Linked DNA regions of Homo sapiens. The protein of the gene in region 2 interacts with the protein of the main gene of each other region in a biochemical or structural test. Each region holds a gene or a part of one and is shown on either strand. Other genes may lie near its edges.

Evidence for each region.
Region 1: of the proteins of DUSP1 (region 2) and NEURL3, one has a biochemical effect on the other in vitro, tested with the Homo sapiens proteins (one study listed by BioGRID).

Annotation. Positions count from the first base shown.
Region 1 is NC_000002.12:96,497,762-96,513,152, forward strand, and holds the start of NEURL3 (E3 ubiquitin-protein ligase NEURL3), read right to left. Parts: upstream 7,597-15,391; 5' UTR 7,526-7,596; coding exon 7,498-7,525; intron 6,949-7,497; exon of another isoform or gene 6,770-6,948; intron 3,164-6,769; coding exon 2,678-3,163; intron 1,689-2,677; coding exon 1,617-1,688; intron 1,514-1,616; coding exon of another isoform or gene 1,429-1,513; intron 686-1,428; coding exon 483-685; 3' UTR 1-482.
Region 2 is NC_000005.10:172,761,776-172,778,042, forward strand, and holds DUSP1 (dual specificity protein phosphatase 1), read right to left. Parts: upstream 9,421-16,267; 5' UTR 9,178-9,420; coding exon 8,811-9,177; intron 8,532-8,810; coding exon 8,386-8,531; intron 8,020-8,385; coding exon 7,800-8,019; intron 7,358-7,799; coding exon 6,987-7,357; 3' UTR 6,321-6,986; downstream 1-6,320. UniProt on the Homo sapiens protein: Dual specificity phosphatase that dephosphorylates MAP kinase MAPK1/ERK2 on both 'Thr-183' and 'Tyr-185', regulating its activity during the meiotic cell cycle.

The DNA.
Region 1 (15,391 bases), on a different chromosome or scaffold from region 2:
CTCATGACCACCCTGAAAGGGAGGCAGGGCGGGTAACTACAGATCCACTCTACTGGGGACTTGTGGGAGGCAACCCAGCTTCCATGTGGAACTTTATACATTCCTTGCAGATACCTCCTGCTTCAAGTCCAGGTTCTTCAATACCCAGGAGGTACAGGGCTTCACCAGTCACAACAGATACCTGAACTCCCTCAGATGTAAAACTGATTGGGGATTGGGCCACCCCATCTCTAAACAAAGCACCCCATCAGAAGGATAGTTCTGGCATGGACAGAAAGAGGGGTTTTTCCTTGCTATCCTGTTGGGGAACAGGTGGAGGCAGCAGACAGCACCTCCCTGCCTTCCTCTCTCTGCCGCACCTCTTGCTAATCAGCCTTTCTGACTCTTCCCCAGAAAGAAGGTAGGGCTGCGCCTCCTTCCTCTCTGCAGGGGCCAGACTCAGATCTAGGCCCGGGCTGCCACTCATACTGGGAAGCCTCCTTTCATGAGCCTTCCTCAACCCTCAGAGCAGGAGGGCCCTGCGCAGGGGCTACCGCCTCTATCTGCCAGCGGCACACAGGGCACTTGGCCGTATCGCTGAAGACCCGCCAGGCACAGTATCTGCAGAAGTATGTGTGGCCGCAGGGCACAAGGCGGGTGTTGGCAGCGTGATAGAAGCAGATGGCACACTCCTCTCCTGGTGTGGCTGGAAGAGGGAGCAACACAGGTCAGGGCACATGGGGGAAGGGGTGGGCAACCCGCTCACAATGTGACCACAGAGAATGACAGAGAAACATGTAGCTATATTTTGAAGAATGTTACCTAGTGAGGAAATGCTTACAGTGTAATCAAGTGAAAAAAAGGGGGAAGAAAACCATTTTTTATATACATATATTCCAATTCCAATTTAGAGAGAAGGAAAACGCAGCACAGACAAGTCCCTATATACACACGTCTATATCGATGACCGAAAATACTGGGAGGAAATCCACCCAAGAGGTAATGGGTGCTTTTTTTTTAACTTTCCTCTTTATCCTTTAATCTTTTTTATTTTTTAGAGACAGTCTCACTCTGTCATCCAGGCTGGAGTGCAGTGGTGTGATCACAGCTCACTGCAGCCTCAGCCAGCTGGGCTCAAGCCATCCTTCCACCTCAGCCTCCCGAGTAGCTGGGGCCACAGACATGCACCACCACACTCAGCTAATTTTTGTACTTTTTGTAGAGACAGGGTTTCGCCATGTTGCCCAGGCTGGTCTCAAACTCCTGGGCCCAAGCGATCCTCCTGCCTCGGCCTCCCAAAGTATAGGGATTACAGGTGTGAGCCACTGCACCCCACCTATCCTTTCATCTTTATTTCCATTGGCAAAGCATTTACAATGAATGTGGATGATTTTTTAAAGCAAGAACAAAATAACACTGTCTGTTCATAAAAGTGCTCTTATAACTCACAGAGTAGGCAAATGCTCTCGAAGGCAGAGATGCCAGGTTGCTTTTAGGTTTCCAGTAGGCAGAGCCAAATCTTTTGGCCCAAAGCCTGTGAGAGACTTGAATGAACAACCAGTAGGACGTGGGGCTTCTCCCTCCACTCCCAGGTGCTGGATTCCCGGGGAGTCCCTGATTCTTGGGAAGGCACTCACCTTTGGGCTCAGGCACAGCCTTGTTGCTGAGGTCCCATGGCATGGGTGTTGGGAGCCGGCTGGCTGTGGGATCTGAGGCAGAGAGAGAAACTCAGGTCCAGGACGGCAAGCCCAGGTGCCCCCCCATCCCCGCCCCTGGCCCCGCAGCAAAGTGTCCGGTCTCCTTTCTTTCCTGGGTTGCAATGCTGAGCCCCCATCCCCAAATTTTAAGACCCTGTCCTGGCCATCCCTTCCCCAGCTTGACCCAGCTGAGAATCCGAGAATCCTTGGGGCTGGAGATTCCTCCTCCTGAGCCACCTTCCTTCAGGCCCCTCTTCTTTGCCCTCCAGCCGCTGCCTGAGTGGAGACCCTCGGCCGAGCCACATTCCCAACCCAGATGGGCATCAACATCTCCCAAGAGCCTGGACAAACACAGGTTCAGGGCTCCACTCCAGACCCAGCAAATCAGGTGCTTCAGGTGTGAGGCGCTGGCAGCTGTGACAAATGGTTTTAACAAATTTGCTGGCAGGAGGCGGGGAGTGGACCACCACCCGGCCCAGGAATGCCAATATTTCTTGTTATGGGTATTACTGCCTCTCTGTGCTCTCCTGAAATCCACCTTCTTCTGGGGTGGCTAAAGGGATGGCTCTCTTTTCCCCCCCACTGACTGAGAGGCTCAGCTTTCTCCCTGCAGGCACTCTCCATGCGCACCTCTAGCCTCACCTGTGTGTTCCCTTTGCTTGCCACCTTTGTATCTAGTGAACTCCTATTTAGGCTGCAAAGCCAGCCCAAATGTTTCTTCCTTTGTAAAAGGAGATGGACACTCTAACAGGTGTTTGAGTAACAGATGGTGTGAGTGCTGGTCCTATCTGCTTATCATTCTTTAGGGACAAGACTGCCCTCCCTACGACTGAGCCTTGTCTATCTGGCGTCTCCAGTGCCCATCTTCACAGCTAACACTGGGCAGGGGCTGATGGAATAACTGAATGTGAACGTTCTTCCTGTGGCTCTGGATCGGTGTGGGGTGCCACTGGAGCCCCCATCTCCCCACCTCCCCTGCGGGGTCCCCATGGTCGCCTCACCCAGCAGCTCGATGGCCTTAGTGGTCCCATACACGTCCATCACGGCCCAGAGCGGGGCGCCGACGGGCACGCCCTCACGCAGCAGGAGCCGGCAGCCGGCGTTGACCTTGGCGAAGAGGCAGCCGCGGCGGTCCACCCAGAAGCGGACCAAGTCCCCAGTGAGCGCGCAGCCCTCAGGCAGCACGGCCGCCCACGTCGGGCTCTGCTCCTCCAGGTCGGGGCACAGGAAGGGCGGCAGGCTGGGCACGGACACGCACGCGGGGTCCAGGCGCGTGAAGCCCACGCGGAGGCCGCCGCACCAGCCGCTCTCCTCCCGCAGCACTCGCAGCGCCACACGCTCGCCCAGGCGCACCGGCCGCTGGCTGAACACGATGCCGTCGTGGAACGTGGTGCGCCTGTGCGCGATGCAGCCACGCGTGTCCAGACGCACCTGTGCGCCCTTGGCCTCGGCATGGAAGCGAAGTGCCTCTCGGGGCGCCTTGGCGTCTGTGGGTTGAGGATGGGGAGTGTCAGTGCTAACCGGGTCTGGACCCACCAGCTCCCCAGAGAGCCCCCAGTATCCCAGAGTCCCTCACACCTGGGAGCACCTTGACCTTCCCCTAGGGACCATTTCCACCTCTCTCGGTTCCTGCAGGGTTGTTATGAAAACTATAGGAACTGATGTCTCTTTGTACTCTTCCTGCGACCAATCTAGTAATGGTTATTATTGTTCAAGAGAAAGAGTAGGGTTAGTCAGGCATAAATATCTATATGTTTGTTATACACGGTTTTTTTGTTTGTTTTGTTTTGTTTTGTTTTCAGAGATGAGTTCTTGCTGTGTTGCCCAGGCTGGTCTTGAACTCTTGGCCTCAAGTGATCCTCCTGCCTCTGCCTCCCAAAGCGCTAGGATTACAGGCATGAGCCACTGCGCCCAGCCCATACATTTATTCCATATGCACCTAAAAATGACGGAAGAGGAGACAGACAGATTTGCTGACTGTGGTCTGCTCCAGGAGGCTGTCTGCTATTCCCTCTCTGCTTGTCTCTCTTGTTTTCCCATGGGGAACTGCATCACTTGTGAAGACCATGGCCCCCAGCAATGGTGACATCCTTGTCCTGGGAGAGAAAGGGGCTTGGCTGCTCCCCACAGAGTATGGGTGCAGGCTGGAGAGGAAGTCCCAGGTTAGCCCCTCAGAATCCTGGGTGGGGTCCAGCCTGGCTCTGGCATGGGCTCTGAAACCAGGGGACTTCCCACAGGACTCTGCCTGGCAGTCAGAAGGGGAAAGCACCTCACTGAGCAGCCCTTCCTCTCCACTCAGCCTGCAGGAAGCTGGTGGGGCTTCCTACCCCAGAACTGCCTTAGCCGGCCTTGCCCCTCCCCTCCTGGTCCTGCTCTTTCTGGGCTGGGGGAGGGAGGCTGGCTGGCTGTTTGCTGTTGAAAATAAAAGGCGAATTCAATCAGAACTTAAGCCAGACCCCATCCTAAGGAGCAAGGCCACTCCCCTCCCAGATCAGGTCACACTCCCCTGGCAAGGCAGGCACTCTGACTACACACAGGTTTACACCCTCTAGCAGAGCCCAGGGCCAGGAGGCTCCATCTGGTCAGGCACCAGGACACGTTTGCGGTGACAGTGACTCTGTCCCTGACTTCCACAGGCCAAAGGTAAGCCTACCTGCAGTGACCTTTCCCCAGCATTAAAGACCAGTGCTCACCGTGGCCTTGGGACTCTCACAGAGCCCTGTGTATCCGCATTCACCCCTCGCCTGCGCCCCGCCCGTGCCTTCCCATGATGCACTCATCCCTTCCTGCGAATCCCAGCAGGCCTGCCCAGCTCCCTGTGCCTCAAGGCTGCACCTAGGCAAGGAGAAGTCCCAGAGCCAGCACACATGGAGAGCCGGAGCCATGCTGGGGTCCCTGACATCAGTGAACCTGACCTTGTGCCCATGGTTGAGGCTGCTCCATGGAGGGCAGTGGGATACCAGCTGGGCCATGGCTAACACCCCCATTCCAGGCCTGCCCTGCTGCTGGCCCAGGCAGGTCACTGTCCTCCAGGGCCCAGCCTCCTCACCTACAAACGGCAGTGAAGTGCATGTCCAGCAAGGCCAGGAGTCTCAGGACACCTGTCTGGAGTCTTGTTCACTGCCTACCTGGCCAGGCATGGGGCTGGGGGTGACAGGGCAAGTGGGGCCTCTTGGCACAACCAGCCACAATCTAGGAGGGCAGAGGCCAGCCCTTTGGCTGGGTCACTGCCCATCCCTGAGGTGGGAACTGGAGAGAAGCCCTGGAGTGGGCTTGGCAAGAGGCTGGAGCAATGGCCCTGGACGAGGGGCGGTGCCGGAGATGGTGGCCGGCATCCGAGCCCTCTCTACAAACTGCCACACCCAATCCTGCTGCCATCCTAAGAGGCAGACAGTGGGCAAGTGGCTAGCCCCACCCCACAGCAATCAGGGGCAGAACTAGGGTTGATGAGGAGTTCTCCCAGCCTCACCCAGTGCAGCCCCTACAGAGAAAGGGGAACCCCTGGGGTCAGGGGAGCTGGAGCCCTGTCATGCTCAGCACCATGGGCCTAGACGGGAACCAGCAGAGATGAGCCCGTGCTCATTGGGGATGGAGTTTCCACCCTACCCTCTAGGCAGGTGCCCGGGACAGAGGCTGGCTCCATGCAGGACTGGCTCTGGGGGCAAGGAGGGGTGGAGGACGGCAGGTGACCTCACTCCTCCATCCACTTCCTGGAGGGAGTAGGGAACTGGCTGGCTGGAGGCAGTCCAGGGAGGAGGGGAACTCCCCCGGAATGGCCTTGAGGGTGCATGAGGCCCTGGGAGCCCTTGAGAAGCAGGCCTTGCCCTGGAGGATAATTTGACAGTTTGCAAAGCTCCCCGATCCCTGCTTCAGGAGCCTTCTCAGCAGCCCTGTATGGAGCTAAGTCCTCATGTCACCAGGGCTGGTGGGTGCCGAGGGGACGTGGTGGCTGCACAGGTCATTCCGCAGCCGGGGCATCTAAGCAGCCTCCTCTGTGCTGCTCACTCAGGCTCCACCCCCTACCTCGGGCAGCCCCCTGGGACCTGGCAGGGCAGCAAAAGGTCCCTTAGGGCACAGCCTCTCATCTATGAAGACTCTTGGTCTGTCTGCATGGTCATGTCAGCTATTCACTGTGCACCACCAAGGCTGAGTGGGGCCGAAACCCACCCCCGACCCACCAGCCTGGCAAGGGCCCACAGGACCGTGTCCACCGACTTCATACAGGGCTCTGTGCCTGGGTCTGGAGCAGGGTCGGGGTGGCCTGACGGGTGTGATCACCACCTCCACTCCACCTGCCTCCTCCCACGAGGCCTGCAGGGGTCCTCCCACACTTTGACCCAGGCAGCCCGGGACACCCCACTCCCAGGGTGGGGAGTGGCAGAGGTGGGCATAGGCCACATGTGGCTCTCCAAGCAGACCTGTCCCCAGTGGCTGGGCTGGCACAGGGTTCAGATCATCCTGGTGCCCAAGCACCCTCACACCTAGAGGCAGCCGCTCTTTCTATGGGTCCTGTTTGCAGGCAGGACCCTGAGCTCAGAGAAGCTGAGTGCCCTGCCCATGGGCGATCGCTCCAATTACTCCACCTGCCCCGGGGTCCCCACTGCTGAGGGGGTGGACTGCCTGCGGGCTAAGCAGGGCCTCTGGGGTGTCTCTACTCCAGGACAGGTAGAGTCAGATTCCAGATTCTCTAAGATCTTGGAATCTGAGTGGGGCAGGGGCGGCCCCTTGCTCAGCAAGAGCCTCTAGGGATCTCCATCCTCACCACTCCTCCAGGTGTCAAGCCTTTCAGGGTGTCAGGCACCCATAAGCACTTTGCAGCCTCTTTTTCTCCTCATCCCGCCTCGGGGAAGCCCTCAGAGCTTGAGAAGGCTGTGCTAGTCATCTGTGTTTTTGCAGCCAGAAAGTGGGGGATCCCAGCGCTGCTCCTGGCTGCTTCACTCTCATGCCACCTCCTTTAAGGCCCATCATTTCCCTGCCAAACACCATTACTGTGACAGCAGCAGTGGCTCTTGGCACAGCCAACTACTAGTCTGTGAGCCCATGGTGCCCACCAGGGGACAGAGGACCCTGAGCCCAGGCTCCCAGCTCTTTACCTGGGAGGGTAGGTCCAGAGATGCACAACCCCAATAGCTGGTGCTGAAAGACCAGGTCCTCAAGGCCGGGTGCGGTGGCTCACGCCTGTAATCCCAGCACTTTGGGAGGCCGAGGCGGGTGGATCACGAGGTCAGGAGATCGCGACCAACCTGGCTAACATGGTGAAACCCCTTCTGTACTAAAAATACAAAACAAAATTAGCCGGGTGTGGTGGCGGGCGCCTGTAGTCCCAGCTACTCGGGAGGCTGAGGCAGGAGAATGGCGTGAACCCAGGAGGCAGAGCTTGCAGTGAGCTGAGATCACGCCACTGCACTCCAGCCTGGGCAACAGAGCGAGACTCCGTCTCAAAAAAAAAAAAAAAAAAAAAAAGACCAGGTCCTCTATCTCCCCCACATATGGCTCTTCCACTACGGGACACCTGTGGCCTCAGGTGAGGCTTGCAGAGAACCTTTGTGCCTATCACTCTTTTGATTTGTGCGTTTGATTTTATAAAGATCCCTGTAAGCCAGCAGGCATCGTCCCTGGCCTGGAGATGTAGAAACTGAGGCCCAGGGACAAAGTGACTTACCCAAGGTCCCATAGCTCAACTTGGCAGAACTGGGACCCCACCAGCCCCCTAAACTTTACACTGACCACATCTCTACTCCAGCAATGACACAGAGCACCCTCTGCTACCTGTACCCCCAGTCCAGAGACCAAGCTCCAGGCTTGCAGGAGGTCTACTTACTGGCCTCGAAGCAGAGCTGGGCACCCATCAGTCTAAGGTCCTCGGGCACAGGTCCCCAGGTCTAGAAGGAACTGCCTGGAGAAGGCCAGTGGACAGGTTACCAAAGATTCAGCAGGTCTGCTTTTTATGGGCCAGAGATCACGTTACAAAGTTGATGATTAATTCAATGGTGCTGTCATGTGTTACTATATCCAGGGGATTTCCCAGTGATTTCTCCTGACTCGCAGACTGACCTGCTGGAGCTGGCCGGCCTAAGAGAAGGAAACAGGAATGGGGGTCTGGCCTGGGTAGGTCTTACGGTAGCCTTCTTTCTCACTTCTGACCAATCTCAAGCTGGCTGTGCATTGTAATGGTCCAAGCATGTTAATAAATACCTATGTCCAGCCCCGCCCCCAAAGACTCCGGTTCCACTGGCCTAGGGTGGAACCCAGGCATCAGGAGTTTACAGAGCAACGCAGATGATTCTAATGTACAGCCAGGATGGAGATTCACTGCAGCAGACCCTGGCACACAGAAGGAACTCAATCTGTGTTGCTGAAGCAGATTGAATTGCATTTGCTGTATCCCAGGACCTGGGAAATTGTGCACCTCCAACAGAAAGGAGGGGTAAAGCAGACAGAAGAGGAGAGGAGCTGATGGTCCCTCCAGCCTTTCTCACTGGAATTTCTGGGAATTCCACTTTCCCAGAACTGCCACAAAATGCAAATAGCCCTACAGACAGTCACTGCAAAGGTCTAGCTCCCAATGTGTTAGCACTGGAAAAGAAGCCAAAGGTATTCTAGCCCGTCAATATTTATTTCGGTTAGGAAAACTGAGGATCATGGAGGGAAGGTGGCTTACTCTAACCTAGTGCTCCTCACTCACATTGCAACATACTCTCAAATCTCCTGGGGATCTTGTTAAAATGCAGATTGACTCAGAAAGCCTGAGGCCCTACCTGAGATAAGTGGACCCGACTTTTTTTTTTGAGACAGGGTCTCACTGTCATTCAGGCTAGAGTGCAGTGGTGTGATCATGGCTCACTACAACCTCAAACTCCCAAGCTCAATTGATCCTCCCACCTCAGCCTCCTGAGTAGCTGGGACCACAGGTGCATTCCACCATGCTCAGCTAATATTTCTGATATTGTGAAGACAGGTCTAGCTATGTGGCCCAGGCTGGTCTCAAACTTCTGGCCTCAAGCAGTCCCCCCATCTTGGCATCCCCAGGTGCTGAGATTACAGGCATGAGCCACCGCACCTGGCCAAGTGGACCCCACTTTCGGGGGCAAGGGCCTGGTGGGTTTGGAGCCTTGTGAGTGCCCTGACCCTCAACCTGTGGGCTAAGCCCCTCCCAAGACCCCAGATCAAGGCCACAATCAGTGACTGCTCGGCTAAGGGATGGCTAGTGCCAGGTACGTCTCCACCTTAGTGCAGGCTGCCTTGGGTGGTTCCCCAGAGCGCTGCAGCCATGCATCTTGTTAATAAATCACACTCTCATGAGAGGTATGTATGGCATCTTATTAGGGAAGTCAACTCTGAGCCTCAGACTGTCTGGAAAATTACCTGGCAAGCTATGGCCCTCAGGCCACCCAAAGCCAGCAGGCTGGGGTGGTATAGTTGCATCAGTGGGACCTTGGGCCATGAGGCAGCTGGGGGGCAGAGGAGGTCATTCTGAGGAGCTAAAAAACCTGCCTAAAGCCTCCCGTCCAGGGTACAGGCATACCCGCCACACACTCTGTGTTTGTTTATTGAACAAACTGCCAGGGTTCAGGACATGCCACCCCAAAATATGGCACTTTGGCATTTAAGAAAACAGCAGAAGCAGGAAGGCCTCGCTCACCTTCCCTTTGCCCGAATCCCCTGAAGTAGGGCCATGAGGCCATAAGACCCATCCTTACCTCTGAAGACACAGGGACAGAGAGAAGAATCTGAACAGGCTGGCCGACTCTCCCCGGTTTATTACCCCTTCCCCCTTTAGCCAATCACTTCTCCACGATGCCCACTCTTCATGAAACCAACGCATAAAAATACATGTCCCCATTTCTTTGGGTCTTCATTTCCAAAGGCCCCTGTGTCATGTAAAATTTACATGAAATAAATTTGTGTGCTTTTCTCTTGTTGACCTGTCTTTTGTTATAGGTGTCCTAGCCATGAACCGAGCAATGGGTGGGGAAAGATTTTACTTTTGTACTTTTCCTCCCCTGCAGAATGCTACCGTTTTTGTTGTTGTTGTTGTTGTTTTTGAGAGGGAGTCTCGCTCTGTGGCCCAGACTGGAGTGCAGTGGCACGATCTCGGCTCACTGCAACCTCTGCCTCCCAGGTTCAAGCAACTCTCCTGCCTCAGCCTCCCAAGTAGCTGGGACTGTGGCGCTCTCCATGATGCCCAGTTAATTTTTGTATTTTTAGTAGAGATGAGGTTTCACCATGTTGGCCAGGATGGTCTCGATCTACTGACCTCGTGATCCACCCGCCTCGGCCTCCCAAAGTGCTGGGATTACAGGCGTGAGCCACCGCTCCTGGCCCGGAATGCTACCGTTCTAAGTCCAGAACTTACCTGACAGTCCTCATGGCAACTCCTCAAAAAGGTCCTGTTTATTGTAATCATTTCCATTATACACGTGGGGAAACTGAGGCACACGACAGTTACGCAGCTTGTTCAGCTCACTAGGCATGACGTGACAGGCTGGGATTGGCCCAGGTATCGTGGCTGGAGACCGTCTGCCTTGCGCCCCTCCACGGCCACTCGCCGCGGAGACTCCGCCCCTTGGAAGTGCCCCCTAATTAGGAATATCTCCTCCACTGGACTGCGCGGGCACAGAGCAGGAGATTTGTAGATAGGCCTAACTTGCTGCTGAGTGTCAGGTTGAGGCTGCCCCGCAGTAGATGTCACCCGCCAGCCCCGCTGCAAACCTTTGCTCTGAGAGGGGCGGGCCCGTGCCCTCAAGCGCGGGGCGGTCTCCGCTGTGCAGAGACTGAGGCGGCCCCTGCTGGCGGCGGTCAGTACTGCAGGAGGCGCCGAGGGCCCGGGAGCCCCCAAAGCCGGGAGGGGCGCCCCAGAGGGAGGTGAGCGGCGCCGAGGCTCACTATACCGCAGCTCCCACACACCCGTCTCCCAGGGTGGGTGGTAGCCTCACTGGGACCCCTCTGTTGCAGTCGGCCTCTCTTGCCCAGAGCCCCATCACTACACATGTCTTCACGCAGGTTATCTCTCAAGACTCAACCCGCGCTCCGGGAAGAGCCTGGCACACGAGGAAGCCACTGCTGCCCCGCGCCCACTCCAGCGTGCGGCCCAGCGGGACCGGGAGCCCAGCCCAACCTGGGGCACTGTCAGGCAGCCCGGTCCCTCGTGGGCCCTGCCATTAAGGCCCAGGGACGCCTACCTATGACACTTGCCAGCCCTCATCCGTTCCCCGCCGGGCCAAAATCTCAGAGGGCAGGGGCTGCCCTGCCTAGAAACCAGCCCCAGAACATCAGGGCCGCGGGCGCTGTGGGCGGTCGGCCAGGGCGCGCAGGGGCCAAACAGGGCAGCGTTGGGAGCTTTTGCACAAGGCACCCCTCTGCCAGCCTCATGGCCCAGCCATGCCACCCCCGTGAACCAAGTGTGCTGGCCCACAGCAGCGCTCTGCACAACAGCCCCAGCCTGGAAACAAGCGAATGTCCACTGCTGTCCACCTCACACTCAGCTGGGGGAGCTGAACTGCTCAGATCCCCGGGAATGCAGGGCCCATTCCCCGGAGGCCAAGGCCAGTGTCCCACCCACACCCAGTCCAGGCCTATGCTTCCCCGGGTCTGCCGCCTAAGCAGCCCTGTCCCTGATCTCTGTCTCAGAGGCTGCTCCCGGCCCAGCTTCCCACAACCATCAGCAGGACCTAAACTGCCACATATGCGCGCCATGGAATACTGTGCCAATGACAACAAATTACTGCTACCTGCAACGACGAGGATAAACCTCACAGCCGTGAGGCTGATGTAAGGGAAGACCCAAAGAGCACCGCGTGCTGCCATTCATAGGAAGTTCAGGCAAAACCCATCCGTGGTGTTCGAAGCAGGACAAGGCTGCCTTTGGGAGGTAGTGATCGGCAGGGACACGGGAAGCCTCTGGGGAGCTGGAAACGTCCTGCACCTTGATCGTGGTCACACAGGTGTGTAGATGTACAAAAAAACCCTTCCAATCGGACCCTCAAATCATACATAAATTGCGTCTTCGTGTTATGTTGGCTAAGCCCTTCCAGCCCTAACAATGTCGTTCTGGCGGAGCTGGTGAGTCAGGGAGCATCCACGCCGCCTGGGAAGACCGGCTCTGGAGGCTGGAGGGCTTGACCAGCACTGCCACCCGGTGGCCGGCAGCGGAACTGACCACAGGCCTGGTGCCCTGGAGGGAATGGGCCACAAACGCTCCGCCAGGACTGCACCTGTGTCCTAGGCGCCGCCCTCAGCCACCAAGTCGGCCTGCCTCTCGAGCACCCAACAACTCCAACAAGCCCTCTGGACCAATAGCTGCAGCCCCCACGGGGCCTTGGGGGTGGGAGGGAGGAGAGGGAGGCCAGCCTGTAGCACAGTACCAGCCCAGAGTTATTAACAGGTCTGTGCTGTCACTTCCGCTCTGCTGCGGTCCTCCTGGGTCCTGATTCTGCCGAGCGCCTCCACAGCCTTCCTCCCTCCTGGTTCTCCCCGCCAGCAGCCAGCACGGGAGCGCCCACTGGGCATGAATGGGGAGCCTGCCAGAGAGGGGAGCTGGGGGAGAGAGGCACAGCTTCCAGGCCTGGCGTGGCTGCTCATGCCTGTGCGTGAGGGAAGGGTCAAGGGAAAGGTGTGCCCTCTCTTCTTTTGGTTTCTTGTTTTCCTTTTTCCCGTGCCCCCTCACCCCATACACAACTGTCAGGGTGTCTGTCCTGGAAAGACACCTGGTACCTGCCCTGGTGGTGCCTGCCCTGTGTGGGGTGTGTGTATGCGTGTGCATGCGTGTGCATGTGTGCATGCATGTGTGTTCAACAGGAATTGATTTAGTGCCTGCTATGTGCCAAGCACTGTCCCAGTTCTGGGTAACCAGAGATTGAAGGAAACCCAATCCTCATCCTTCAGCCACTTTGTGCATGCCCTGGAATTTAGGTAAGTGCTACAAGAGGGCCAAACTGAGGGCTGGGAAAACCAGCGGTGTCGAGGGGTTGTTATGCCCAGGGAATGGGTGAAGGTTTTGTGGAAGAAGAGTTATTAAAATTGTGCCCTGAAAGGTAAATAGGATTTCAACAGCCAAGAAAGGAATGAAAGGCATTTCAGGGAGAAGGAATACACACACAAAAGCATAGGAAAGGAGACATGATCTGTGCTGTATGGTTGTATCAGGTAGGATTAGGATTGCTTGCATGCAAGAGAATGTCCAAAAGGACAGTGGCTTGAGCAAGGCATGTTCATTTCTTTTTCACATAAAATAAGCTGAAGACAGGCAGTCCAGCTAGTCATGACACCTCTGCAGCCATAGGGGACCCAGGCTTTCTCCGCTGTTCAGCTCCACCATTCTAGCACTGGCCTCAAGGTCACGTCATGTACCAAAAGTGCTGCTGGAACTCCAGCCAGTACATCAGAGCTCCAAGCATCAGGGAAGAGAAAGACTCAAATGGGCACTCCTCTAAGCTAAGCCAAGCCAGCTTGCAATTAAGCTGATTTACTGGAGGGCCTATGTAACGTTTTCATTTATAGCTCATTGGCCAGAACCTTGTCACATGGCCACAGCTAGCTGCAAGGGAAACTGAGAAATGTGGTCTTTATCGGGAAGAGCAGCTAAAAATTGGGGTCTGTCACTAAGGAAGAAGGAGAAACTGGATGTTGGTGGGAAGCCAGCACTGCCTAGCCCAGGGTAGAGTGGAGCAGTGGTCCTTCAACTTGTGGGGAGGGGGGCAGGAAGGCAGCCTGATCACAGGGGCCGTGCCGTGGAGGGGCTGGACTCTTCCATAGCAAATAGGGGATTGCTGAAAGATTCTCAGCAGGAGCCAAGGGTTGAGGAACCTGGAACTGTCTGCTTGGGGGAAAGAACCATTGGGCAGAAAATGGAAGCATGCAAGGAGGGGAAGGGAACTGTGAGAAGTTAATAAGGGCACGAGGCAGGGAAGGGCACCCCAGGAGAGCCAAGGCTAAGCCTGGCAACAGTGGGAGGTGATGCCAGGGCCCCGGGGAGGGACACAGATCTACTGAGGGTAGTCTGGGAGGAACACAGTACTAGCAGATAGCTGTGTCTGAGGCAGCTGTTAACCATCAAGTCAGGTGGCTCAAAGGCAACTGAGAATCCAAGTGGAAGCTCAGGTGAGATGACAGCACTGGGAACATAGATGAAGCGATCAGTCATACAGTGGTGGATGGGATCAGCCAGGCAGGGATCCAGTCGTTCAGCTGGAGGACTCTGATGGATCTTTCGGAGTTACTGGGGAAGGAGAACAATGGAGTGACCAACTGCATAAATTTTGAAGCCAGAGCTGGGTTCAAATCCAGACTTTAACAGCCATAAGCCTGTGGGCTGGCTAACAACACTTTCTAAGCCTTAATTTTCTCATGTGCAAAATGGAAATAAAGAGGCCTTCTGTGCGGGCTGATAGGAGGGCTGAATGAGTAATGAGTAGCACATTCCCACACAGGGAACTGCACTAACCAGTAAATACCTGCTCTTACCAGTAAACCACCCCCCCGCCCCCCACTTACTGAAGAGGACATCAGTGCCTTTCTTGGGGCCATTCACTGTGCCCGACAGTCCTCTCACTGCAAGGTGGGGCCCGTGGAGCCCTGTGTGGGATCGCTCAGGTGAGGTCACAAGCACTGTGCCTCTCCAGGACCCTGAGACCTCCAACCCAGCATGGCTAGGGCAGCCCCTGGCTCTGCCAAACCTCCTGGACAGGGGCATCTGCAGCCCCAGACAGGTGGGTCAAGAGAAGTGTTATGCCTCCTGCCAGCAGGGAAAAGGGGCCAGAGTAGGCCATGGCATGCCCCTTTCCTTAAAGGGCACAGCCAGAAAGAGCACACATGGCCCAAACTTCAGCTTGAATCCCATTGACCAAAGCTTAGTTGTGTGGCCACATCCAGCTGCAAGGAACTGGGAAGTGTAGGCTTCATTCTGGGCAATCATGTGCCCAGCTAGACAGAAATTGGAGTGTTCCAATATTACAATAGAGAAGGAGAGAATGGATATTGAGGGAAAACAGCAGCCATAGGGTGCAGGGAAAGAGAGAGGGCATGGCACCCTGGGTGCAGGGTGGTGGGAGGCTCTGAGCGCTGGGAGACCCCATGCCCCTGGGACTCACATGTGCTGCATGCACATCGCCTGGCACCCAGCCCGCAGGAACTCAGCTGTGGGGGCACTGTGGGTGGGTGGGCAGGGGAGCTGTTGTAGCTGAGAACCACCTCTACTGGCCAGAAGGACAAATCACCAACTTCTCCAGTAGAATTTTTCCAGATCCCTGGAGTTCCTTCTGGTCCCTCACCAAAGCCAAAATAGCGCAGAGAGGAAGAAAATATCTTCCTTCCACTCCTCTGAGTTTTTGCCCATTGTCAAAGCTCATTGCAGCCATTGTCATTGTCTCTACTGCCCAGGCCTTGGGCACAGTCCATCCTCCACAGGCAGGGATTGACCATTCCCTAGGTCTCCTGACACCCCCTCCACCCTGGCAGAGCTAGGGCCAAATGTTCCCTGCCAGAGTGGAGTGGACTCCAGCCCATTCTGTCTTAAGGAGCCTCTCCTCTCCCAACTTGAGCTTTTTTTTTTTTTTTTTTTTTTTGACGAGGTCTAGCTCTGTCAAGAGGGTGGAGTACAGTGGCACGATCTCGGCTCACTGCAGCCTCTGCCTCCCGGGTTCAAGCAATCCTCCCACCTCAGCCTCCCGAGTAGCTGGGATTACAGGGGCATGCCGCCATGCCAGGCTAATTTTTGC
Region 2 (16,267 bases):
TGTAATGGCGCAATCTCGGCTCACTGCAACCTCCGCCTCCCAGGTTTAAGTGATTCTCCTGCCTCAGCCTCCCAAGTAGCTGGGATTACAGGCATGCGCCACCATGCCTGGCTAATTTTGTATTTTTGGTGGAGACAGGGTTTCACCATGTTGGTCGGGCTGGTCTCGATCTCCTGAACTCAGGTGATCTGCCTGCCTCAGCCTCCCCAAGTACTGGGATTAACAGGTGTGAGCCACCGCACCTGGCCATGAAGTAAATACTTTAACTCCCTTTTTATTTATTTTATTTTATTTTATTTTTTTGACTTGCATCACCTTTTATTACACAAAATAGATTTCAGCCATGTTGCACATTCATTCTCGCTATAGATCTGGCTTTTAAAAAATCCCTAGGGATTCAGTCTCATCGATTTCATGATTTTCCTTTCATTGATGTCAGGCCTCTATTGTAGTCAGAGTCCTCTCAAAGGACAAAAGCAGATATGGCTGCCTTGGATCAGCTGCACGCAGTGCACTCCCGACCTGGCCGCTGGAGGCGCGGCTCCCATCACCTGCACCGCGACTGCTAGGGACTGTCAAAGCGGCAGCATGCCATCGCCTTCTCCAGCCCTTCTCCAGCAGCACAACCAGTCCTCCCAGCTGGTCCTCTGAGGACCAGCCGTCATGGCGACGTGGTGGCAATGTCCCCAGGCAGCCGACCATCCTGGGCTTCTCTTTGGACAGGCCTGGGCCAGGACCTTAGGGGATCTCTGTGTCCATGGTATAAATCTGAATGAGATCAGACACAATATTATCAATGATTGGCTTGGTAAGGTCTTCACCAAACACCTGCCACCACGGCTTCTCAGCCTTAACCTCGGCGGGCACCTCAACTCCGTAGACCTGCAGGGCCAGGTAGAGCACCGCCACCGCGATGTGCTGGGCCTGGAAACGGAGGCACAGACCCCCGTGGTAGCTGTCCCGCAACAGGGCCCAGGCAGTGACGGCAACCGGGGTCCGCTGCCAGCTGTGGCGGTTCAGAGTTTTTGAGGGAAACCAGGTAGTGGAGCAGGTACTTGTGTGGAAGCTGGAAGGAGACCTGGAAGCGCAGAACTCTCAGCATGAGAAGCTCACACTGCACAATGCTGTCCCGGAGCTCCCAGAAGCGGGATTCCAATTCCAGGGGCTCACCGCTCGGGTTAAAGTACCTGTTGGACACATTGATGATGTCATGAGTCCGCAGGTGCTGCTTTTCCGCTTTGCCGGCCAAGTAAATGGAAGACACGGCAATCAGGTAAGGGTCATAAGCGTCCAGGTTGGTATTGCAAAAGAACTTATGGTAAATGGTGCAAGCAGTGGCAATGGGAATGGACCTCATCCCTAGCTTGACACCTGCCTCCATGATGAACCTCGCCACTCGGAAGTGCACCCTGGCTTCGGGCGCCGGTTGCCCCTCGGGGCCCCGCGCTGCAGGCCCCCCTCCGCCGCCCTCCGGGGCTTCCATGAGGCCCGGCGGCCCCGGCGGAAGGAGAGGCTGCTTTGCGCGCAGAGGCCAGCAGAGCGGGGGGGGGGTGCTCGCCACTCCTCCGCCCCACCCCACACGAGGGTCCAACTCCCTTTTTAGAGATGTCAAAACTGAGGGTTTGAGAGGAGAAATAATCCACTCAAAGTCATACAGACACTAACTAGTTGGACCTATCAGTTTTGTCCCAGGTATTTGGAACAGAATCTCAAAATTTCCTTTGGTGGTATGATTTTCACATCTACTGAGTGTTTTACAAACCATGGGTACTTAAAATATGTTTATTGGATGAGTGAATGATTGGTGTCAATCTTGGTGAAACTTTTAAATCCCATCTTTGCAGTGTGCTCCACTGCAGAGGGCTGTGCAGGCTGGGAGGGAAGGAGGGCCCAGGGGTCAGAAGTATGCAGTCCCCCCCCGGCCCTTGTAGGGGAACCCATCCCTGCAAGAACCAGTCACATCTCCATAACACCAACCGACCTTCTGAAGGTCCAGGATCCCTCACTGCCTCTTCCCAGAAAGTGTCTATTTCCTTCCCACTTTGTCTCCCTGAACCAGCCTTCAGGAACCCTGGGGATTCCAGGACCCTCCCAAGTTTGGGTATGGAAGGGACTTAGCACTGGCAGATGGGTGGGAGAGGAGAATAGATGAGGTTCACCGCAGGTTCTTCTTACACATGAGGGTACGAGGCCCCGAAAGGGGAAGCAGCTTGCCCCAGGTTAGTGGAGCAGGGCTAGATGGGCTTAGAACAGAGGCCACTGCTCCAAAGCTCTGATGGCCTAGAGTAAAGCGTTGTCTGATGCGCGCCCAGGGTGTCACTTTGGTGAGGCAGCCCACTTTTGTGGGCGCTCAAGCACGAGCGCCCCTCCGGAGCGCTCCAGAGCCACTCCGGAGGGGCGCTCATGCTTGAGGGACAGAATAGGGAGCAGCTGAGTCACAAGAGAATATTACTGGGCCGTATTACAGATTGGGAAAACAGAGGTTAAAGAGTTTGATAGCAGGCCGGGCGCCGTGGCTCATGCCTGTAATCCTAGTACTTTAGGAGGCCCAGGCGGGTGGATCACAAGGTCAGGAGATCGAGACCATCCTGGCCAACCTGGTGAAACCCTGTCTCTACTAAAAATACAAAAATTAGCTGGGCGTGGTGGTGCGTGCCTGTAATCCCAGCTACTCAGGAGGCTGAGTCAGGAGAATCGCTTGAACCAGGGAGTCGGAGGTTGCAGTGAGCTGAGATTGCGCCACTGCACTCCAGCCTAGCGGCAGAGCAAGCGTCCATCTCAAAAAAAAAAAAAAAAAAGAGTTTGATAGCTTACACACCACTAACAGGTGGCAGAGTCAGGACTTGAACGCAGGTCTAGCCAACTCCAATTCACACGCTGTATCCACTGGTCCACAAACATACCTCTCAAACATCAGGTCTTTGCTGCTCTCCTGGCCTTGGAGCCCTCTTTCCAGTTCACCTCTCAAATGGGCAACTGGGTTATATCATTCAGGTCTTAGTTTATCCTGCCTTCATAGCCTTCATCCTTATCTTATTTTGTGATTATCTTATTTCTATAACCCACCCATATATAGTGCCATGAGACGGCAAGTGACAAAGTAAAATTACTTTTGCTGTTTAGCGAAAATAGCAAAAGTAATTTTAGCTACTTATAAGTAGGAATTTTGTCTTGCACCAAAGTATCCCCTGAGACTATACTTATCAATATTTGTTGAACACATGAATGAATGAATGAATGAACGAATGAGTGAATGAATGCGTGGGCCTCCTGCCTAGCTTTAAAAGCCACATTCAAGGAAAAGGTGGCTATGAGCTTATCTTCCTTGGCAGAGCAGTTTTGTCCACTGTGGCGCTAGCAGAGAGCACACCCTTTGTTCTCCACGGGGTGGAAGACACCTCCTCGGTGGGCAGAGGGGAGCAGGGCTGCTGGTCTGCACCTACAGGCTGTTCTCAAACAGGCTCACCCCGCAGAGCTCTGGAAACGAGGTGAGCAGCCCTCCCACCTGCTCTCCAGAAAGCAACCTGCAGAGAAAAACAGCCCGGGTTGACCTGGATCCACCCGGCGGGCGCGGGGAGGGGCCGCAGCGGCATTGTTTGCCTCTGTGTATGGCAACCAGAAACCACGGCAGCCAGCACTTCTCAGAGGCACCCCGCCCCCCTTTATTTTAATCTCCTAAACTGATTTGTCAGCAGCAGGAAGTGACATGACAGCTTTCCTCACAAAAGGGAAACTCCTCCGCGTTACCATGGGGATGGAGGCCACTGTAGGATCACAGATTTATATAATCTTAAAGGTGTACACACAATGATGTCATCCTCTGACGGGCCAGGGGAGGGAGGGAAAGGGACGCCAGAGGCTGCAAGTCCAAAGCAAATTAGCTACGATTTGCAAAATTCCAAGGAGAGGATGCGGTGGAGGTGGGGGAGGGGGAGTGTTAGAGGTATTATAATGAAATAATGGGTGCCTGGAAACCACAGAAAAGCATAATGTATGCATTGATGCATTTTCTACATCCCAGAATTAGAGAGATGGGAAGAACAGTACTCAGATCCAGTGCAAATTGGTCATTTTACGGGGTGGGAAAACTGAGCCAGAAGAACTGCCAGAAGCCATTAGGACAGAGACAAGGGGATGGAAACATTTCTCCACGGCCCACTGTGTGCCAGGCACTTTACATTCATCAGCCCATGTCTTTCTCACAAGTGAGCCTCAGTTTTGTCCTCTGTAAAATGGGTATTGCTGTCAAAGGTTACTTAACCTTAGCAGTACCTGGCACACAGTGCTCACTCTAAAACTGGCAACCATCATTGCCACATTATCAGTATTAAAAGTCTTATTTCAATCTCTTCCTGGGAAACACATTAATAGACTTTAAGTATCTTTCATCACGAGGTATTAATTTTTTCCCAAGGAAAGCAGTCTGAGGCCAAATATGAGATTTTTCTGGAGGGTCTGAACACAGTGACTCCGGTACATGGGGATCAGGGGTCATCATTCCTGGCTCTCAGGGCTGGCATGAGGCAGAGTGGCTTGAGCCGGGAGAAGTGAGTGACTTGTTTTCACTGGCGGCTCCCTTAGGCAGCCGCTGTATTTTTCCACTGCGTGGATCACACTGGAGATTAATTTTGGTTCAGCCAGTGCCTGCCAAGCAGAAAGCGAAGGCCCTAGCCCACGGGGAAGTCAGCCATGGCATCTGTCACAGACTCGATGTCGCTGGTACATTTCCACGGAGAGAGATATTTACAATAGTAAATTTCTAGGCTTTGATAAAAACACTGGGTACGATTTGTTTTGATAGGCATGAACATACTTGTAATCGGAAACCCAGCTGAGGAAATGAGCTTGCCAGCCCAGGGTAAGTTCTTAGAACTTAGAACACAGGGATCTTTCAGACCCTGGGAGTCAAGTGGCAGACAGTGAGCCACAGGGGCAAAGTCAAGGACACTGATTCTGCGTAAAGACCTTGAACAACAGGACAGGACCAGAACCATAGCACAGGGTGCTCATGGATAAGGCGAATGGGATATTTCCTTTTCTGCTTCCCATAGCACTTTGTCCAGAAACAAAGAGTGGGGTGGGGCGCTAAGGGGCCAGTAATCCAAGAGCTTCGCTGTTTCTTAACGCAACATTATAGACTGGATTATGGATTGGTAGCAATTACATCTCTTCTGTTTTTTGCCTGCTTGGCAAAGGAGTACAAATTCAGAATATTATCCTAGAACAAGTCAGGTTTAATTGCTTATCTCAACAAAACTATGAAATCAGAGCAGCAGGTGACATGAAGGAGGCAACTACCAAAAATGCCATGTCTATATGCAGAAATGCCAGCGTGAATGTCCTCCACAATGTTAGCAATGGTCAGGTTGGGGATGGGCTGTTGCGGGTGATTTCTTTACATGGTATTTGCTTATAGTGCTTGGATTTTTTTTCTTTCTTTTTTTTTTTTTTTGCCAATGTATTTAAATTTTCACAAAAACAAAAGCCTTTTTAAAAGCAAAAAGATAGGTCAGGAGTTCGAGACCAGCCTGGCCAACATGGTGAAACCCCCATCTCTACTAAAAATACAAAAATTAGCCGGGCATGGTGACGCGCACCCGTAATCCCAGCTACTTAGGAAGCTGAGGCAGGAGAATGGCTTGAACCTGGCAGGCGGAGGTTGCAGTGAGCCGAGCTCACACCAGTACACTCCAGCCTGGGTGACAGAGTGAGACTCCGTCTAAAAAAAAAAAAAAAAAAAAGCCATGAGACGGGCAAGTGAAAGTCTGAAACAGATGTAGATTCCAATTCTCCTATTTCTGCCACTTAGCCATGCTGGGTCTCAGCATCTCATTTGCAAAAGGCCTTGCTGAGTTTCTCTAGGGGCAGGTAGCACACACCTGCCTTATGTCATGTGTTTGGAAAAACTTTTGTCTCCTCATAACTCCAGCACAGCTCAGAGATGGGAAGGCGACTTTTTATATTAACCTGAGGAGGGTATTAAATGAAGAAGGCAATCCAGACAAGTGGCTATTTCCTCCTAGCTTTGGCTCTGGGGACACCTTGGCATCCTGGGTGACATGGTAGGTTACAGAGCCGCTAAAATGGGCATGGGCAGACACACTGATCCAATACTAAGAGTTCAGCTGTAGCGTCCGGTGTTTCATGATACTCACTTGTCTTCCTCCCTTGCAACCCAGCCATTTCATGGGACCAACGGGCCACCACAGGGCATGGGATCAGATCTCAACACATTCTGCAGGCCCTTGTCGAAATTCTTCCCTAGTTCACTAGTGGGAGAGGGATTGGGTGTGGTTGCCAAAGAAATAAAAGCGTTGAAATTTCAATAGAAATGCCATAATTTATTCCATTGTATAAAAAAGTCATCCTTATGTAACAAAATGTCTTCTTAGAAGAAGAAATATATTATTTCAGGTCATAAATAATCAGCAAACATACAACTGTTGGCAACTAAAAAAAAACCCAACACTGGTATTTTCCATCAGTGCTGAAAACAAACCTGCTTAAGATATATTTACAGGATAGTACAGTACTCAAAAACAAAAATTGAGGTATTTGGTTCTTCTAGGAGTAGACAATGACATTTGTGAAGGCAGACACCTACACAAAAATAAATAAGGTATATTCTCATATGTATATGTGTCGTCGGGAATAATACTGGTAGGTATGTCAAGCATGAAGAGATTCTACAAAAAACAGGGGCGAGCAAAAAGAAACCGGATCACACACTGAGTCCTTTCTCTTCTGCCCCATTTTGTCAGATGGACTTGATGTACCCACTATATATTGGTCCCGAATGTGCTGAGTTCAGCAAATGTCTTGACGCTAAGTCATCACCATAACTGCTTAGAAACCCAGAGGAACTCGGGTGAAGTTAAATAAATAAGGACCAGCCCTCTCGAGCCCCTCCCAGAGTTATTGCATTTCTCCTCTCAAGGAGCATGGAGTCCCAATGGGATGTGAAGAGCCTCACCTCCCGTGGCCTTTCAGCAGCTGGGAGAGGTCGTAATGGGGCTCTGAAGGTAGCTCAGCGCACTGTTCGTGGAGTGGACAGGGATGGAGACGGGGAAGTTGAACACGGTGGTGGTGGAGGTGCCTCGGTCGAGCACAGCCATGGCGGGGCTCCCAGCCTCTGCCGAACAGTGCGGAGCCAGCACCTGGGACTCAAACTGCAGCAGCTGGCCCATGAAGCTGAAGTTGGGAGAGATGATGCTTCGCCTCTGCTTCACAAACTCAAAGGCCTCGTCCAGCTTGACTCGATTAGTCCTCATAAGGTAAGCAAGGCAGATGGTGGCTGACCGGGAAATGCCTGCCTGGCAGTGGACAAACACCCTTCCTCCAGCATTCTTGATGGAGTCTGGAAAACCAAAGGAGCGGCTGGTTACTTGAGAGTTCAGGAGAACCACCCCAAGCCCAGGTACAGTGTATCTGAGAAAGGTCATGTGTGTCTTGTCTAGAAATGGTCAACATCACCACATGCCATCACATGGATACTGTTCATGGAGGCAACGTGGGCACTGTGCAAAGGATGGCACAGGATTTAAACTCAGACTGGGGATTTCCACTTAGCAGATAGATCTCAGACCAGTCAATTCAACTTTGTGAGCCCCACTTTGCAAATCTGTAAAGTGGGACATCGAATCAAATTCATATTTTACAGGAATGTTGCCCACACCAGACTGATACTGAATGTGTGGAAGAAGGCTCAGAAAACTTCAAGCTCTTGCCACAGAGGTTGGGCTTAGTGGCTAAAATGAGAAGAGAAAGGCAGAAAAGCCCCAGGCATCCATTCCATTTACCTATGAAGTCAATGGCCTCGTTGAACCAGGAGCTGATGTCTGCCTTGTGGTTGTCCTCCACAGGGATGCTCTTGTACTGGTAGTGACCCTCAAAATGGTTGGGACAATTGGCTGAGACGTTGATCAAGGCAGTGATGCCCAAGGCATCCAGCATGTCCTTGCGGGAAGCGTGATACGCACTGCCCAGGTACAGAAAGGGCAGGATTTCCACCGGGCCACCCTGAAATCCAGAAATATCCAACATTCATCAAGCTTGCTCAAAGCCAAGGCCAGTGCCCATACCCACAAAAACTTTCTGCTGGAAAAGTCAATTTCAGATACCGAGTGAACTCAGTTCTGTTGCTGGAGGATAAATAAATAGGGAACTAAGCCCATTTGCCTGGGCAGGACCAGCAAGTTCATTTCCGTAGAGCCTACAATTGGAGACTCGGCTCCGTCAGACCACTTAACTGTGGAATAAATCATATCCCTGTGTCCCCTCCGTTATAAATAATGCTGCAGGTCACTTTCTATATTCTCCCTGGCACTACTCTTCCATGCCTTTGCCAGTTCTTACTTCTTCCCTGTGGCAGGGACACCTACTAACCTGATCGTAGAGTGGGGTACTGCAGGAACTGCACCCAGATTCCGCGCTGTCAGGGACGCTAGTACTCAGGGGAAGGCTGAGCCCCATGGGGGTCGACTGTTTGCTGCACAGCTCCGGGCAGGAAGCCGAAAACGCTTCGTATCCTCCTGGGAATACAAAGACATTTTTTTTCCCCATTAGTGACACCGGGACACGGCACCTTCATACAACTCCCCCACCCACCAAGGGCTGGAAGTTTACATCGGAAAGGCCCAGGCAAGTCTTTGTTTCCAGAGCCAAACAAAGCCAATGACAAGTTCCAGAGATAAATGTACTCCAGCGCCCACGCGCTGCAGGTGGGGCGATCCCCCGGGAGCCGAGAGCCAGGGGTACCGGGCAAAACCTCAGGGGTGTGCGGCCCGCCCCGAGCTTCCCCGAGGGCGTACCTTTGAGGAAGAAGACTTGCGCGGCGCGCGCCTCGCGGCAGAGCGCGCCGGCCGCCAGGGCCAGGGTGCCGTCGCGCTTGGCGCCGTCCAGGGCGGCGCTGCGCTCGTCCAGCAACACCACGGCGTGGTAGGCGCCGGCCAGCAGGCGGCCGCGGAGCTCGGCGTTGGGCACGATGTGCTCCAGGCCCATGGCGCCCTTGGCCCGGCGCCGCACGATGGTGCTGAAGCGCACGTTGACAGAGCCGGCGATGTGGCCGGCGTTGAAAGCGAAGAAGGAGCGGCAGTCCAGCAGCAGGCATTGCGCCGCTCGCTCCCCCAGCAGCGCCCGCAGGCCTCCAGCGTCCAGGGTGCCCACTTCCATGACCATGGCCGGCCTCAGCGCCCCCAGCGTGATCGGCCCTGCGGTGCTCTTTGTCTGTTCTCGGGGCCAAGGGCAGGGCGGCGCTTTTCGAGGAAAAGCTAGACCCCCGGGTCTCTCTGCGCCGAACCAAAAGCCGCTTTTGGACTGAGAGAGGAGCGTCACGCGGGGCTCCGGGCTCCTCGGCTTCTTCGCGGTTCCCCCGACTGCCCCTCCGACCCGCGTCGCACACACAGCCCAAATGTCCTTCGCAGCGAGCCTGGCCCGGGGAGCGCGTTTATATGCGGCCTCTGGGGGACGGGGCGGGCCAGACCCGCGCGCAGGGGGAGGGGGGGTGTTTGTTTGAATGGTGATCACGTGACGGGGCGGTGACGTCACCCGCCCTGCCAGGCCAGGCGCCGCCGAGCCAGAGGGGGAGACGTCATCAGCCTCGGAGCTGGGTCCGCTCGCCGCGCGCTGGCTCGCGGCCCGGCCCCCGCCCTGCTGTCCGGCCTGCTCTTGGCGCGTCCCCAGGGACCGGACCCGCGCCGCGCTCCAGGCCCAGCGGGGAGGAGGAGGGCTCGCTGCCAGCTGAGGCTGACCTCCGGGATGCGAGCGGCCGGGAGAACGGGCGACGTGCCACCTGCCTTGGCCTCGCCGCTCCTCCCTCTCTCCCTCCCCGAGTCCCCTTCCCCGTGCCCCTCGGCCGCCGACCTGAACCGAAAGGGGCTTCCTGTGCTTTTGCATACTCTTGTGCCCCTTTTCCTCATTTCCTCATCACTAACAGGCGGGGAAACTGAGGTTCCCCAGGCGAAGCGACTGACTTGCCCAGAACCACACTACTGGGGTGGGGGCAGCAAATAGGCGCCTAAGATGAAGTTTAGAGAAAAATGAACAACTCTGCCGATAGAAAAGTCGTCCCTACCAAGACCGACTCGAGCGAGTTGGGGCGGAGAGGTTCAGGGCAATGCTTTCCTGTTTCCCAGACTTTTCTTTAAGGTGGCTTTAAAATATCTACATTTGCCATGAAAGTGTGAGCAAGCAAACTCCCACCGGGAAATAATGCTATTCCTAGTCTTGTGGCCCCCGGAAGACTTGGAGCCAAGGGAGGCAGGTCAGGGGGCTGAAATCCCGGTGAGGGGTCGCAAGGCCCCGCAGTGGATTCCAGGGTTTGGCGTTTGGAGGGGTGAGGGGCGACCCGCAGCGCGACTCGACGGCGCCCCCCAGGGGCCGCCCGACACGTTTCTGTCACCTTGGCTCCAGACTGAGCTTCTCCATCCCTTTCTTTATTATACAAATAGGCAGTATACACAGTGAGCGCCCACTAAGCGCTGGGCTGGGGGCCTCCAACCCGGAACAGAAGCCGGCCACAACCCTCGCTCCCTGTCGTCGCGGCCGTTATAGGCCGAAAGCAAAATCCAATCCCGGGCCATTGTGGGCGGATTGCCAGGACCTGGATCGCAACACTTGGGAAGACCCCCGCCCCGCCCAGCGATCTCCGTGCCCTGAGTCCCAGTGACGGCCCCCTGGACAGCGGAGCCTGCTGCAGCGACGCGACGCGCTGGGTACACAAACATAAACATTGCGCCACCCGCCCGGGTGCCGAGTCAGGAACATTCTGCGGTTTCCTCCCCTCCTGGGGGAGGGGATTTCGCTGGCCACCCTGTGTCGTCGCTGTGCGAGCTGTATCACCAGTGGCAACTTCTGCATTTGCCTCGCTTAGCTTGTGTGTTTTCGCCTGCGCAAATGTTCTGCCTGGATTCTTCTAGAAAAGTTCAGGGCATGGAGTGCTTTTTTTTTTAAAAGGGCGTCTTCTACCTTCATTTGAACATTGGTCGAGGACAGCAAAGAGGTCCTCAGATAAGGGCAACGCCCTCCCTGTATGGAGAGATAGAAGAAAAAGAAATTGTTTATACTACTTATTCAGCTGAGGAACTCAACATAGTTTTTGCGTTGAATCATAGAATGTTACAGCTGCTGACTTTTCACTGCATACCGACTTGATTTGTCCCATTTTTTTTCTCACCAAGAGCATTTATTATACCTTCCCCTACCGAAATTTTTCAAAAAGAAAACTTTTTAAGAGCTGGGCGCTGTGGCTCACACCTGTAATCCCAGCACTTCGGGAGGCCGTGGGGGGGCGGATCATGAGGTCAGGAGATCGAGACCATCCTGGCCAACATGGTGAAACCCTGTCTCTACTAAAAATACAAAAATTAGTTGGGTGTGGTGGTGGGCGCCTGTAATCCCAGTTACTCGAGAGCCTGAGGCTGAACCCGGGAGGCAGAGGTTGCAGTGAGCCAAGATCACACCACTGCACTCCAGCCTGGTGACAGAGCAAGACTCTGTCTCAAAAAAAAAAAAGAAAAGAAAACTTTTTAATGCCGTTATCATAGTAGTAGTGGCGCAGTCTGGCCCTAGAGCCAGGTGTCTGCTGGCCTCTCCTGCTTTTCTCTCTCCTCCCTTGCTGGAAAGAGTGCAGAGAGTAGACTTGAACCCTGTCATTTTGCTGCTGGATGGTCAGAGGTGAGTCTCGACCCCTACTGAGCCTCCAAACCCACGTCTGTACAGTGCGTCTACACTGGCCCACTTTGTAGATGGTTTGAGGCCCAAGTGAGAGATGGGGGGTTTAGGGAACTCAGGCCCTACCTCACCCCTGCTCTTTATGATTCACTGTATCTCTAGGGTTTCCCCTTCCCAGCAGAATGGTTCTTTATATATCATCATGCCCCTGTGCCTTTCAGAGACTTGCCTCAGAACCAGGGAGAAGGTCACTGCAAGCCATCTGCTTATGAGATACATCAGTGGACAGGGGCCCAACTCAGGCAGAGCTCCTCTTTAAGGCCCACTAACACACAGTGCTCGGGCCAGTGGGTCACCTGCCCGGCGACAAGTGGTAAACGTGTAGCCACCTAGGCCCCCAATCCAGGCAGTGGAGATGCTGCTTCTGACTGAGGATGGAGCCAAAGAGAGCCCAGCATAATCTGGTCTCTGTAACCACAGAAGGAGTGAGGGACTGGCCTTGTGGGCCTGGCTGCCAGAGGGAGTGAAGCAGATAAATCAGTGGATGTTGACTCAGGGGAGAGAATTGGGCCTTTCTGACCTGGGCTGTTCCCAATTCTACCTAGTCCTGCTTAGGAATAAACCTGGAGACAGTGAGGAGTAGCGGAAAGAAGGGTTCAGGGTTCCACACTCCCCAAAAAGCTGGCCTGGATTTTCTACCTTTAATGTGTGGCCTTGAGTAAGTGCCCCCATGGTGCTGAGCTCCACCCCCTCCTTCCCATGATGGAGAGAAGAATAATAACATTCACCTCCAGGGACTCTGGGGAGACTCAGTGTAGCCAGGGTTGGCCCTAGCTCACAATCCCTGTCCTAATCCTGCTCTCAAAGGCGACTTTGGATCTCTCTTGGGATCACAGGAAAAGAAAAGAGTTGAGCTCCCGCTGATGACAGTCAGAAAGAGGCCCCCGCTCACTGTCTGCTTGGTGACCTTGGGCAAGCAGCTTACCGTTTCTGAGCCTCTGTTTCCCCATTTGTAAACTGGGAATAACATCCATTTAGGACCAAGTAAAACAGTGTATAAGAACCTGATGTGGATGACACCCAAAGAGGGTGCTCTCAAGAGAGGGAGCAGGGCCCCACATTCATGTTCCCTCTTTCAAAAACCACGGCGTTTTTCCTGTCTCCCCTGTGCTGTATGGGGGTTCCTCCCCTCAATAGCCTTCTATAACTCCCCATTTCTTAGCAAATCCAAAACTCACTGCCACTGGGCCTCGGCCATCTATATGGCTCAGCTTCCCACTCTCTTTGCTTTCTCTCTTGTGCTCCAGGAAAATTCTGTGGGCCTGTGTTCCTAGAATGTTCTTGTCCTCTCCCACATCTTTGCTCACATTCCTCCCCCTCCCCCTGCCAGACAGTGGCCCCTCTGGGCTCCCCCATAGTCTTTCCAGGTGAAGACTCCTCTGGTTTCTCCAACTTCTCCCTCTCCTGCGTCTGGAGGACATTGTCCGTATATTCTGATTGTGTACAAGTCACCTAGATCTTTGTCGTACTCTCCCCAGGTTCTAAGTTGGTCAGCTTGAGGGCAAGGGGTGTGTTTTTCTCAACATTGCACTCCCCAGCCTACTACCTTTGATGCAGTGCCTGGCACATAGTAGGTTCACAATTTGGGAAACGGTAGAATTGTTTCAAAGGGTACTGTTGAAAAGTGTCAGAAGAGAGGAGGGTGGTCACTGACACTCATTAGGCCTCACCTCTGGGCCAGGTGCATTACAGGTATCATTCCATGAATCTATCAGTGATCCTGTGAGGTGCTTGTTGTCCCCATTTTATAGGCAAGGCAAGAGGCTCAGAGAGGAGACATACCAAAGGTCACATGCCTAAGGTTATAAAGCTGGTAATCATCAGACACAGATCCAAACCCAGCGCCTGTCTGACTTGAGAGAGGGAGCTGGGCCTGGGTCTGTTGAGGCCTCCGCGTCTGCCAGCCCCATGTCTGGCAGCACTGGCTGAAGCCTCTGCCTCCCAGCTTCCTGGAGTTCTTCTCGCTGGACGGAGTGGTCCCTGGTGTCAGCCCAGCAGGGAGCCTGGAGCCTTCTAAGACTCCCAACTCAGGCCCTAGTGCCGCTGCTGAAGAGACTCTGTAGCCACTCAGGCCTACCTTGAGGGACTGGCAAGGGGCTGACTTCACCCTCTACACCCAGGCAGTTGGGACAGAGCTAGCTGCCATTGCACAATCTTTACAAACAGATCTCCATGCTCAGACCTGGCAGGGCCCACAGAGCTGTGTCATCCTGTCTAACCTCCTCATTTGAGAGGCAAGAGCCCAGAGAGGTTAGGCAATCTGTCCAAAGTCACACAGTGTTCAGAACATTCTAACCGTAGTCAGCATTGTGTGAGCTGTGTGTCCAAACCCTTAACAGTGTTTATCTTTGGAAGGTGGAGTTCCTCTCATTTTCTTCCTTATGACTCTGAATGATTTGAACTTTTTAAACTTAAATGTGTAACTTTTGTAACGAAGAATAAAAGAAGATTAGAAGGCAATCATATGTAGGTAACAGCATTGTTGTTAAAACCAAGTTACAGAGTTAGACTGCCTGGATTAGAATCCCAGCTTGCTTACTCACCAGCTGTGTGTATTTGGGCAAGTTACTTTACCTCTGTGAGACTCAGTTTTCTCATCTTTAAAGCGGGAATAATAATCATATCGATCTTGTAGGGCTGATAGGAAGGTTATATAAGACAGTGATTGGCACACTAGAGCCTGTGAACCAAACCTAGCTCGCTCCCTCCTTCTGTACAAACCACAAACTAAGACTGGTTTTTATATTTTAAATGGTTGGGGGAAAAAAATCAAAAGAAGAATCTCATTTTATGACATGTGAATGTCATATAAAATTCAAACTTCAGTGTCCATAAATAAAGTTTTATTGGAACACAGCCACACCCGTTCCTTTACATGGTATCTGTGGCTGCTGTCACACTACAATGGGAGGCGTATATTGTGACAGAGACAGTATGGCTCACAAAGCCTCAAATATTTACCCAAGTCCCTTTACAGGAAAAGTTTGCCAACCCCTGATAGGAGCTCATGGATGAAAAGTACTGTAGAACAATGCCTGACACAGAGTAAGTGTTTAGAAAACTTTGTTATTATTATTATATAGATATTTATAAAATCTTCTTCCCTTCCGATGTTTTTAAAAGCAGTAATTGCTTTCATCATATAATTCATTGTGTTGAAGGCACAGTTTTCATATTTTAGCATTTCTCAGAGTGTAACAATTGGAGGCATGTCATCATTAATTGACAGCATTTTCCTTTCTTAATGGTGCACAGATTAATGAAAGGGCCTCAGAACTGATGACATCTTAGAGCCAGTAGATGCAGTAAAGTATAAAAGGTTTAAGATGGAGAAGAATTAAAGTGCTACAGTCATTCAGTTAACATCCGTTCTAGTAGTGGGACAGACTTGTTAAGTGCCAGGATAGAAACTGGGTAGCCCAGGAAAGATGCCCAGAGGAGGGGACGTCTACTTGGAGATGTAAAGGCTGATGTAGGATAGAAATACCTGGAGGAAATGCCTTTGAGAGGTGGGCCTCAGTTACTTACCACTTTCCCCCGGAAGCCTCACCTCCCCATAAAATAAGAATAGTAATAACCCCTAAAGACCACTTTGTGATTCATTTTCTTTTCTTTTTTTTTTTTTTTTTTTTCATTTGGAGTCTCGCTCTATCGCCCAGGCTGGAGTACAGTGGCGCGATCTCAGCTCACTGCAACCTCCGCCTCCAGGGTTCAAGCGATTCTGCTACCTTAGCCTCCTGAGTAGCTGGGATTACAGGCACCTGCCACCACGCCTGGCTAATTTTTGTATTTTTAGTAGAGACAGGGTTTCACCATGTTGGTCAGGCCGGTCTCAAGCTCCTGACCTCATGATCTACCTGCCCTGGCCTCCCAAAGTGCTGGGATTACAGGCGTGAGCCACTGCGACCGGCTTATCAATAATCATTTATATCTCTCCCACTAGCTTGGAAGCTAGGGCATGATTTCTTGTCTCTCTTGGTCCCCAGTACAGATCTCAAAGCAAGGCTTGTTGGACAAATAAATGAAGATGAGCCCAAGAGCCCAGGAGAGGGACCGGGAACAGCAGGGCCTCCGTGACTCACACAAGCTTCATCCCTGAACCAAGGACGCAGCCTGCCAACAATGGCCCCAAGCCACACCCCGCCACAGGGGGAACTGATGCTGCGGTGAGAAGTGACAGCTTTCTGTTGACTCTTTTTTTTTTCAAGCAGAATATGAATTGAGACATACTTTCATTTTCATAATCAGAACCTAACACTTAGTAACCAATGTTGGTGGAAGCAAATGAGATCACAGTTTGTCTGTTCCAAACTCATCTCTGGGAAAAGGAGGAGGAAAAATTATTGGCACTATGTTCAGAATCATAGCTGAAGATGCAGAAATTGTTCATCCCAATTTTGCCTTTGTAAGTAATGTGGGGGCAGTTCTTATTAGTAATTGCCAATCTCTACTGAGACACAGTATTTTGCTAGGCGCTTTATATTCATTTCCTGGTATGATCATGACATTAACCCTGTGAAATGCGTACCCTTACTAT